2 linked regions of the Homo sapiens genome follow. The protein of the gene in region 2 purifies or fractionates together with the protein of the main gene of each other region. This does not show direct contact. Each region holds a gene or a part of one and is shown on either strand. Other genes may lie near its edges.

The links.
Region 1: the proteins of WDR24 (region 2) and SEC13 purify together in Homo sapiens (affinity purification with mass spectrometry; 7 studies listed by BioGRID and IntAct, with this or other methods). This does not show direct contact.

What each region holds. Positions count from the first base shown.
Region 1 is NC_000003.12:10,314,363-10,318,269, forward strand, and holds part of SEC13 (protein SEC13 homolog), read right to left. Parts: intron 3,733-3,907; coding exon 3,688-3,732; intron 1,075-3,687; coding exon 959-1,074; intron 1-958. UniProt on the Homo sapiens protein: Functions as a component of the nuclear pore complex (NPC) and the COPII coat. At the endoplasmic reticulum, SEC13 is involved in the biogenesis of COPII-coated vesicles.
Region 2 is NC_000016.10:683,956-687,539, forward strand, and holds the end of WDR24 (GATOR2 complex protein WDR24), read right to left. Parts: intron 3,462-3,584; coding exon 2,789-3,461; intron 2,232-2,788; coding exon 2,113-2,231; intron 2,036-2,112; coding exon 1,914-2,035; intron 1,829-1,913; coding exon 1,724-1,828; intron 1,643-1,723; coding exon 1,302-1,642; intron 1,222-1,301; coding exon 1,037-1,221; intron 948-1,036; coding exon 779-947; 3' UTR 667-778; downstream 1-666. Other genes in the region: JMJD8 (jmjC domain-containing protein 8 isoform 1 precursor), read right to left, coding at 111-200, 279-364. UniProt on the Homo sapiens protein: Catalytic component of the GATOR2 complex, a multiprotein complex that acts as an activator of the amino acid-sensing branch of the mTORC1 signaling pathway. The GATOR2 complex indirectly activates mTORC1 through the inhibition of the GATOR1 subcomplex.

The sequences.
Region 1 (3,907 bases), on a different chromosome or scaffold from region 2:
GGCAGGTCTAATAACCACTGTAATTTCAAAGTTGTGATGAGCATAAGTGGTATTTTGAGGTAGCTAAGTAACCGTGATGTGTGATGACAATATCTGTGAATTCTACTGGTGACAAAGTGACAGGCACTACAAATACTACTGAAGTTTCTGGCCTACATCCATAATTGAAGGAAATGCTAAATATCAGAGTCACTGAAAATGCATTTTTTTCCCCCTGTCCCAATTCATCAACCCCTGAACTCTATTCACAGAACCCTTGGAGATCCACGGCACCCAGGCAAACCCACAAATACGTGAAAGGCAGTGAGCTGAGGGAAAGCAGTAGAGATGTGGCCATAAAAATGAGCCAGGACTTCCTCAAGAATCTCAGTAGGGAGCAGGGCAGGTCAAACATTTGTAAATAATCACTGAACACGTGCCACGGGCATATAGGCAGAACAATGGGATTTATAAAATGATAGCATTCTTACATTATTCTTACGGTGATGCTTTTGTGACACTTTAGGTCATACTGGCTAAACTTGAACGAAATGGTACTGTTTACCACTTTTAAAAGTAGCAGTAGCTGCCTGCACTAAAGACTTACTGTGTCCTGGGCCCTGTGTCAGGGCCTTGCATACACTAGCTGGATAGGAGGTAGCATTGGCCCAATTTTGAGGATGAGCAGATGAAGGCTCTGAGAGAGAAACTGAGTCACTTGCCCAAGGTCTTCTGGTGGGTACACATAAAGTGGCAGAGCTGAGATTCACACCTGTATCCACCTGTGCCCTTAACAGCATCATCCCTGGGGACGTCCGCTGAGGACAGCCAGGCTGGCTGGGATCCCAGCGTCCTCTCCGCTAAATGTGCTTTGGGGTTGCTCTGAATCTGGGCTCCCATGCTTTGCTCCCACGCTTGAAGCAGGGCCTGAGAACCCACACCATTCCTGGAGCCCTTCCCTGGGCTCGCCAGCACTTACCCCCTGAGGTCGGCGATAAGGATCTGCCCTCCATTGCGCACATCAAAGATTTTGACGGACCTGTCTGATGAGCAGGTTGCCAGGCGGGTGCCATAGTAGTCCATCTGGGCGTCGTGCTGCAAAGGGAGGACAGCTCGGGAAGCCTGCAGGCTGGGTGGGTGGGTGGGTGGGGTGAGGGCTGTCACTACACAGAGTCTAGTTTGGACCAGAATCTCCCTGAAATCAATCTGATCTCAAAGTATCATCACCCTCAGGCAGGAAGCTAGCATGTGGACATTCTCACTTCACCTATGGGCAGTGTCTCTCTGAAATGGACAAAGCAAGCCATGCCCAGCTGGTGTCACAGACCCTTTACATACCTCAGGGAAGGGCTCTTCCATTCCTGTTCCGCAGGGTGGGTATGGGAGAAAAAAAGTTGGCCTAGCTGCCCTCTTCTTCCTCCATCCTCTCAGGCCCTATTCAGTTCTTAGGCTCTGTGGGCTAAAGGGGAATACCCCTGGGTTCAGCTCAGCCCTAGCACCTGATGCTAATGCATGGGAGCAGGCCAAAGGAGTGGGCCTCTGACTGCCTGGAGTCCCCAGTCAGGTCTTCTGTGATGCAGCTCTGGCCTGCACACAGGGTTCCATTCAGATATTTGGGCTCTTTCCAGCCCTGGCCCTGGATCCTTTGTGGACCTTTGTTTTGGGGCTTCTGCTCGACCTTTTCCCTAGTAGTGTGCCCAGAGCTTCCCAGACTTTCCACCCAAGGAACACAATGCCTTAAGTGTCGCTGCTCTCACCACTTGTGAACCGAATTCCTTGATGCTGACTGAGCATGCAGAACTAGGCCTGGCCCCTACCTGCAGATCCTTGTCCGCAGGGTGATGGTCTCTGAGGCACCATGCCTCCTGCACCACTGAACACCCTGGTCCCTTCTGCTTGCTGGCCCTGCCTATTCCAATGGATGTCCCTTTCCCCAGCTGTCCCACCCTGGGAGTTTCAGGACTATCAGCTGCACTCCCATGGCCACCAGGGGCAATTATGCCCATTCAAAGGCACTCATTCTGTCTGGCTCAGATGGGAATTCTCACCTCCCTACGCAAGGAACACATCCTGATTTTTCTTTGGGAACTCCCTCCACTGTATCAGGCCTTGGTTTCTTGGAGGGCAGGCAGTAGAGGAGTGTTTCTGAAGCACTTCTCATGCTTCTCAGTGGAAGGAGGCAGGACATAGTACCTTTCAGATCTAAATCCTATCTCCTTAGTTTACCTGCTGTGCAAACTTTGAAAACACTTCATCTCCTTGAGCTTCAGTTTCCTTATCTTTATTATTTACCAACATCCTATGGGCCTTAGTTCCCTTATCTTTAAATAAGGCTAAAGATAGCATCTGTCTCAACAGTTGTTATGAAGGTTAAACAAGATATTGAATGAAAACTCACGCCTGTAATCCCAGCACTTTGGGAAGCTGAGGCGGGCGGATCACCTGAGGTCGGGAGTTCGAGACTAGCCTGACCAACATGGAGAAAACTTGCCTCTACTAAAAATACAAAATTAGCTGGGAGTGGTGGCGCACGCCTGTAATCCCAGCTACTCGGGAGTCTGGGGCAGGAGAATTACTTGAACCCGGGAGGCGTAGGTTGCGGTGAGCTGAGATCACGCCACTGCATGCCAGCCTGGGCTACAAGAGCGAAACTCCATCTCAAAAAAAAAAAAAAAAAAAAAGAAAAGTACTTAGCATGGGGCCTGACACTCAGTGAGCATGCAAATGTTTGTCATTACTACTTGGCCTCATCTAGTTCTCAAACCAAACTCATACGAGTAGGTAGCATATCCATTATTTTTCCCGTAAGTAAATTGAGGCTGGCTCAGAAAAGTTAAGATATTGGCTAGGGAGTCTCAGACTGGGTCTTCCTGCCCATGATTCCATGCTATCTCCAAGGAGGTGTGGTCTTACAGCTAGACCACTCATGACTGAATCCAGAGAACATATACAACTCTGGGACCAGACAACCTCTCAGAAACCCAAAAGCAACTGTTGGTGGACAGGTTGTGAGGGCAAGAACCCTGACATGAAACACTGTCAGCCAGCTGTCCTGGGTCTTGCTCAAAGGCTGCTTGGCCCTGAATGAAGCAGAGTCTGTGTTTTTCCTGCGGTAGACTTTAACCTCTGGACCTTCTCCTGCAGCCCTGTCCTCTTATACTGAGCCTTGTGTTTACCTCTCAGGAAATGCCCTGAGTGTGGACTTCTGGTTCAAAGGGCCTTGTCTGGCCTATTGTCTTGGTGGTTTGACTGGGCTCTGCCTGGGGCTTTCACTGTGGCTGCCCTCTGCCTTTGTATTGAGTCATCTTTCTACACTCTCTTCTTTTCACCCCCCTTTCCAGTGGGGCTAAGAAGTGACAGCAGGAGGAAGACAGGTGGGAAGACTATTGTCAAGCCTCCGTACCCACTCAGCCTTCATCCGAGAGCAGGTTATTGTATTGGCTGGAAGACTGACAGCCTAGAACTACAAATTATTCCCAGGTTCCTCCCAGCAGAGAGTGATTAGACTGCCACAGTCCTGACAACTCAGAGGGCACTGCTAGGGAGCCTGCCATACCCCGAGATTACAGGCTGATAGGCAACCACTGCAAAGCCACCCTGGATCCATGAATGATCAACAGAAAGGGGTAATGAAAACCCCAAATTGCTTCCCTCCCACAAAAATGCCCATGTCCACACCCCTCCAGGGAGGGTGATATTAATACTTACAATCATGTCCTCATGGGAGGTATCCACAGTGTTAATTACTGACACCTAGAACCAAAGATATCACTGGTAAATTAACTCATGGCAGTTAGAATACAACCATCTCAAGTTCTTGACTGCATTTGTTTGTTCACTCACTCATTCATTCATTCATTCAGTAAGCATTCATTCTAAGTACCTTCTTTCTGCCAAGCACTGTGCTAGGAACTGGATATACAGACAC
Region 2 (3,584 bases):
CCGCCCCAGCCCCACGCGTGCGCGCGAGGTCAGGGGAAGGCGGCCTTGGGCGGTCGGGGCAGACGGGCCGGTGAACAGGACGCGACCTCCGCGATCAGGGGCGCACGTACTGCTGCACGAACTCCGCGTAGGTGAGGTCGGCCCGACGCTCCACCGTGCAGCGCTCCTCCTCCGCCACGGCCCCCGGCCCGCCCGGGCGCCTGCGGGCACAGCTGGGTCAGCCCGCGCCCCGCCCGCCGCACGTGACCCCACCGCCCGGCCCCTCCCGGGCCGCTCACCACCCGCCGTCGCCCTCCGCCCCGGAGCCGGGTAGAGCCACAGCCGCCAGCGCCCAGAGCGCGAGCAACCGCGACGCCGGCGCCATGAGCCTGCCGCCCTCAGGCAGCCGCGCTGCACGCCGGGAACCTTGGGCCCATCCGCCAGCCATTGGCCGGCAGCTTCGTCGTCGTGGCAACGGCCGGGAACCGGGACGGACCCCGGAAGTGACCTCCTTTGGCCCGCCCCGGAAGAGGCCTCTACGGGAGGCACTGGGAAGGCCGCCCCGAGAGCGACTATGGGCGCCGCCGGTTACCATGGCGACAACCCCGCCGAAAGCCCCCGCCCGCCAGCTGCCCCGCGGGCCTACGGCGAGCCCGCCGCGCTATGGGGTGACACGCAGTGCCGACAGCGGCTCTACTTCCTTTATTGAGGTCTCAAGTTCCAGCCTCCGCCCGTCTCGGGCACAAGACCAGGCGGGGTTCTGCACGCGGCCGCCCGGGCAAGCCCAGCAGATGCCCCGTCAGGAGTACTCGCAGAGGTGGCCGCAGCCTGCGGGACAGTGGGAGCTGCCTTCCAGCCACTTCATGATGTGCTGCAGGTGGCCGCCGTGGCTGCAGCCCTGGCACCACACGAAGAGACCCTTGACTACGTGGTGGCAGACGGCACACATGCTGGCGCAGCGGTGGCACCTGGGGGCGGGCGGGAGGGAGGGTGCCTCAGCGGGGGCTGCTGCGCTGCCTGCAGGCCCCTGCCCCACCTCCCGACCCCACTGCCCCACCTGTCGCAGACCCAGCCCCGGCTGCTCATGGGCCGCTTGCAGTGGCTGCAGTTGACGTGCAGGGTGGTGGAGGCCTGGTTGAGGCAGCTGACGGCGCGGCTGGTGCTCAGCTTGACCACCTCGTTGGACACGTTCCAGAGGCGGAAGCGCTGCAGCAGGTCGATGTAGGAAGTGTACCAGTGCTCCTGGGGGAGGGAGCGCCCGGCAGTCAGGATCTGGGTGCCAGGGGCGGCGCTGCAGGGGGGAGGCCCCGCCCACCACACACCTGGGTCTGCTCGTCGATGTCCTTGCGCACCCGTTCACCCAGGACGATGAGCACAGACACAGCCATCTGCACGTCGCCCTGCTCAGCGTAGAAGTGCAGCATGTCGCGCACCAGCACGCCGAAGAAGTCGGGCGGCAGGCGGCTGTCGTAGAGCGCGTGTGAGACAGACAGGAGCGAGAAGGAGGAGTCCACGGGGGCCAGGGAGGCCACATCCGCCTCGCTGCCGCTCACGTGCGGGGAGTCGGCCTTGTCCTGCAGGTGCTCGGGCCCGGGAGGCGTGTCCACGATCTCGTGGCGCAGCGGAAAGGCCTCCTGCGGCAGCACGCACTCAGGGTCCTCGGCTGGAAGGCAGGGACCAGCGGAGGCTCTGAGTCTGTCCTCCATCCGCCTCTGAACCCCACCCTGCCCGGACCCCCACTCACGGTGCGCGTGTTCCGGATCCAGCAGGTACAGCTCGTCCTCCTCACCTTCCACGTCACCCAGCAGGTAGTCGGCAGGTACGTCGCTGCCCTCGGTTTCCTCGTTATCTGCCCGACAATGGGGCGGGCATTCAGGGTCGTCTGGGACACCCCCACCCCTCTCCCATCAGCACCCCTACCCACCCCAGCCTACCCTCATTGGTGATGAGTGTGGCCGAGGAGTCGAGCAGAACTGTGTCGCTCCGTGCATCTCCTTTGCTGCGGTCCAGCCGCGTCTCACTGCCCAACCCTGGGGCCATATCCTTCAGGTTGAAACTGGGGGCAGGAAGGGCCCATGGGTGGGTGGGCTCGAGCAGCCCCAGCCCCTGGGGAGAGCTGCCCCCGGCATCTACCTGTTCATGAGCGGGAGGCCACAGGAGCCACCCTTGCCCACACTGTGGTTGAGGTTTGCAGTGGGCACTAGGCCAGGGCTGCAGTAGATGATCCGCAGCATGGTCCACGTTTGCGCCACCTAGGGGCGGGCACTGGTCACTTGTGGGCGTCCTGGACACCCAGCACCCCATGCAGGTCCCTCTCTGCCTGGACAGTCACAAGCCCTCAGCATTCAGCTGCCCTCAGTACCCAATGTCCAGGCCCACCCCAGGTAGGAAAGCTGAGGCTCATGGGAAAGACAAAAACCCCGGTCCCCGCCCTACAGCAGCACAGAGGAAAACAGAATTGGGCAGTGGGGACTTGCGGGGCAGCTAGAGATGGGCATGGGAACGGCAGCTCACGGCTCCACCGCTGCTGGTGCCTGGAGAGCTCCAGAAGCAAGGGGGGAAGAACAGAGAGCTTGAGCCACACGACTCCCGAGACCCCCGCCCCTCAGAGGACAGTCCTGGGTCTGGCCCACCCTGGAGCCCTGGCCCTGTGTGATCCTGACACCCTCAGCTACCAAGGCAAGGCCTGTTGGTGCGACTGGCTGGAGTCCATTGCGGAGCTTGAGGTGGGGTGAGCGCAGCTGACGGAGGAACCAGCCCCTGCCCTGAGGTCGTGGCCCAGGGACCCCCAGGCTCAGCACCTACCTACCTGGTTGCGGCCAAGCTCTCGAGCCACCTTTGCGTTGTGGTCACAGAGCTCGGCCAGTGGCCGGCCAGCCAGCGCATAACGCTCAGCTGTGTCCACAAACCAGCGCATGCCGCCGCCACCTGGCTCCGTCTCAAAGACACTGAGGGCACTGGAGGCGAGGCCTGCGAAGGGCTCGGCAGGGTCCAGCTTGCGCTTAAAGAAGATGGGGTGGCGCCGGTCGCCAGTGTAGGGCTTGCGCCCCGACTCGGCAGCCACGAGGCTCTCCTTGGCGGCGAAGGCCAGGTCCCCGAAGAGGCCGTAGCAGAGGCCCTCAGGGTTGGCGCGCTCGACGGGCTGGCTGGCGTCGCGGAACAGGTGCTGGCACAGCGAGCTGTCCTTGGAGCCAGACAGCAGGAAGGAGGGGTCGTGGGGGTGGCGCCAGGCAATTCCCGTGGTGACGTCTCGGTGTTCCTCAAACATGGCAGCTGGCACGAAGGGCCGGCGCACGTCCCAAACATAGATGTTGTGGTCCACCATCATGGAGCACGTGGCCAGGTGGTGGCGGCACTCTGGCCGCCACTTCACACGGGCCACCGAGGCGATGGTCTGCACACAGTGCATCTCCTTGGCACGGTGCGTGGTCATGTCCCAGACCTTCACCATCTTGTCGCGCCCTCCAGTGGCCAACCAGCCCCTGTGGGAAGAAGGTCCACCCAAACCCTCAGTGGCCTTTCCTGCAGAGAGGGGACCCCCCCGCTCTGCTGCTCCGGACTGTCTCATGGATCTGAGGCAGTGAGAGCTTACTGTCAACCTACTG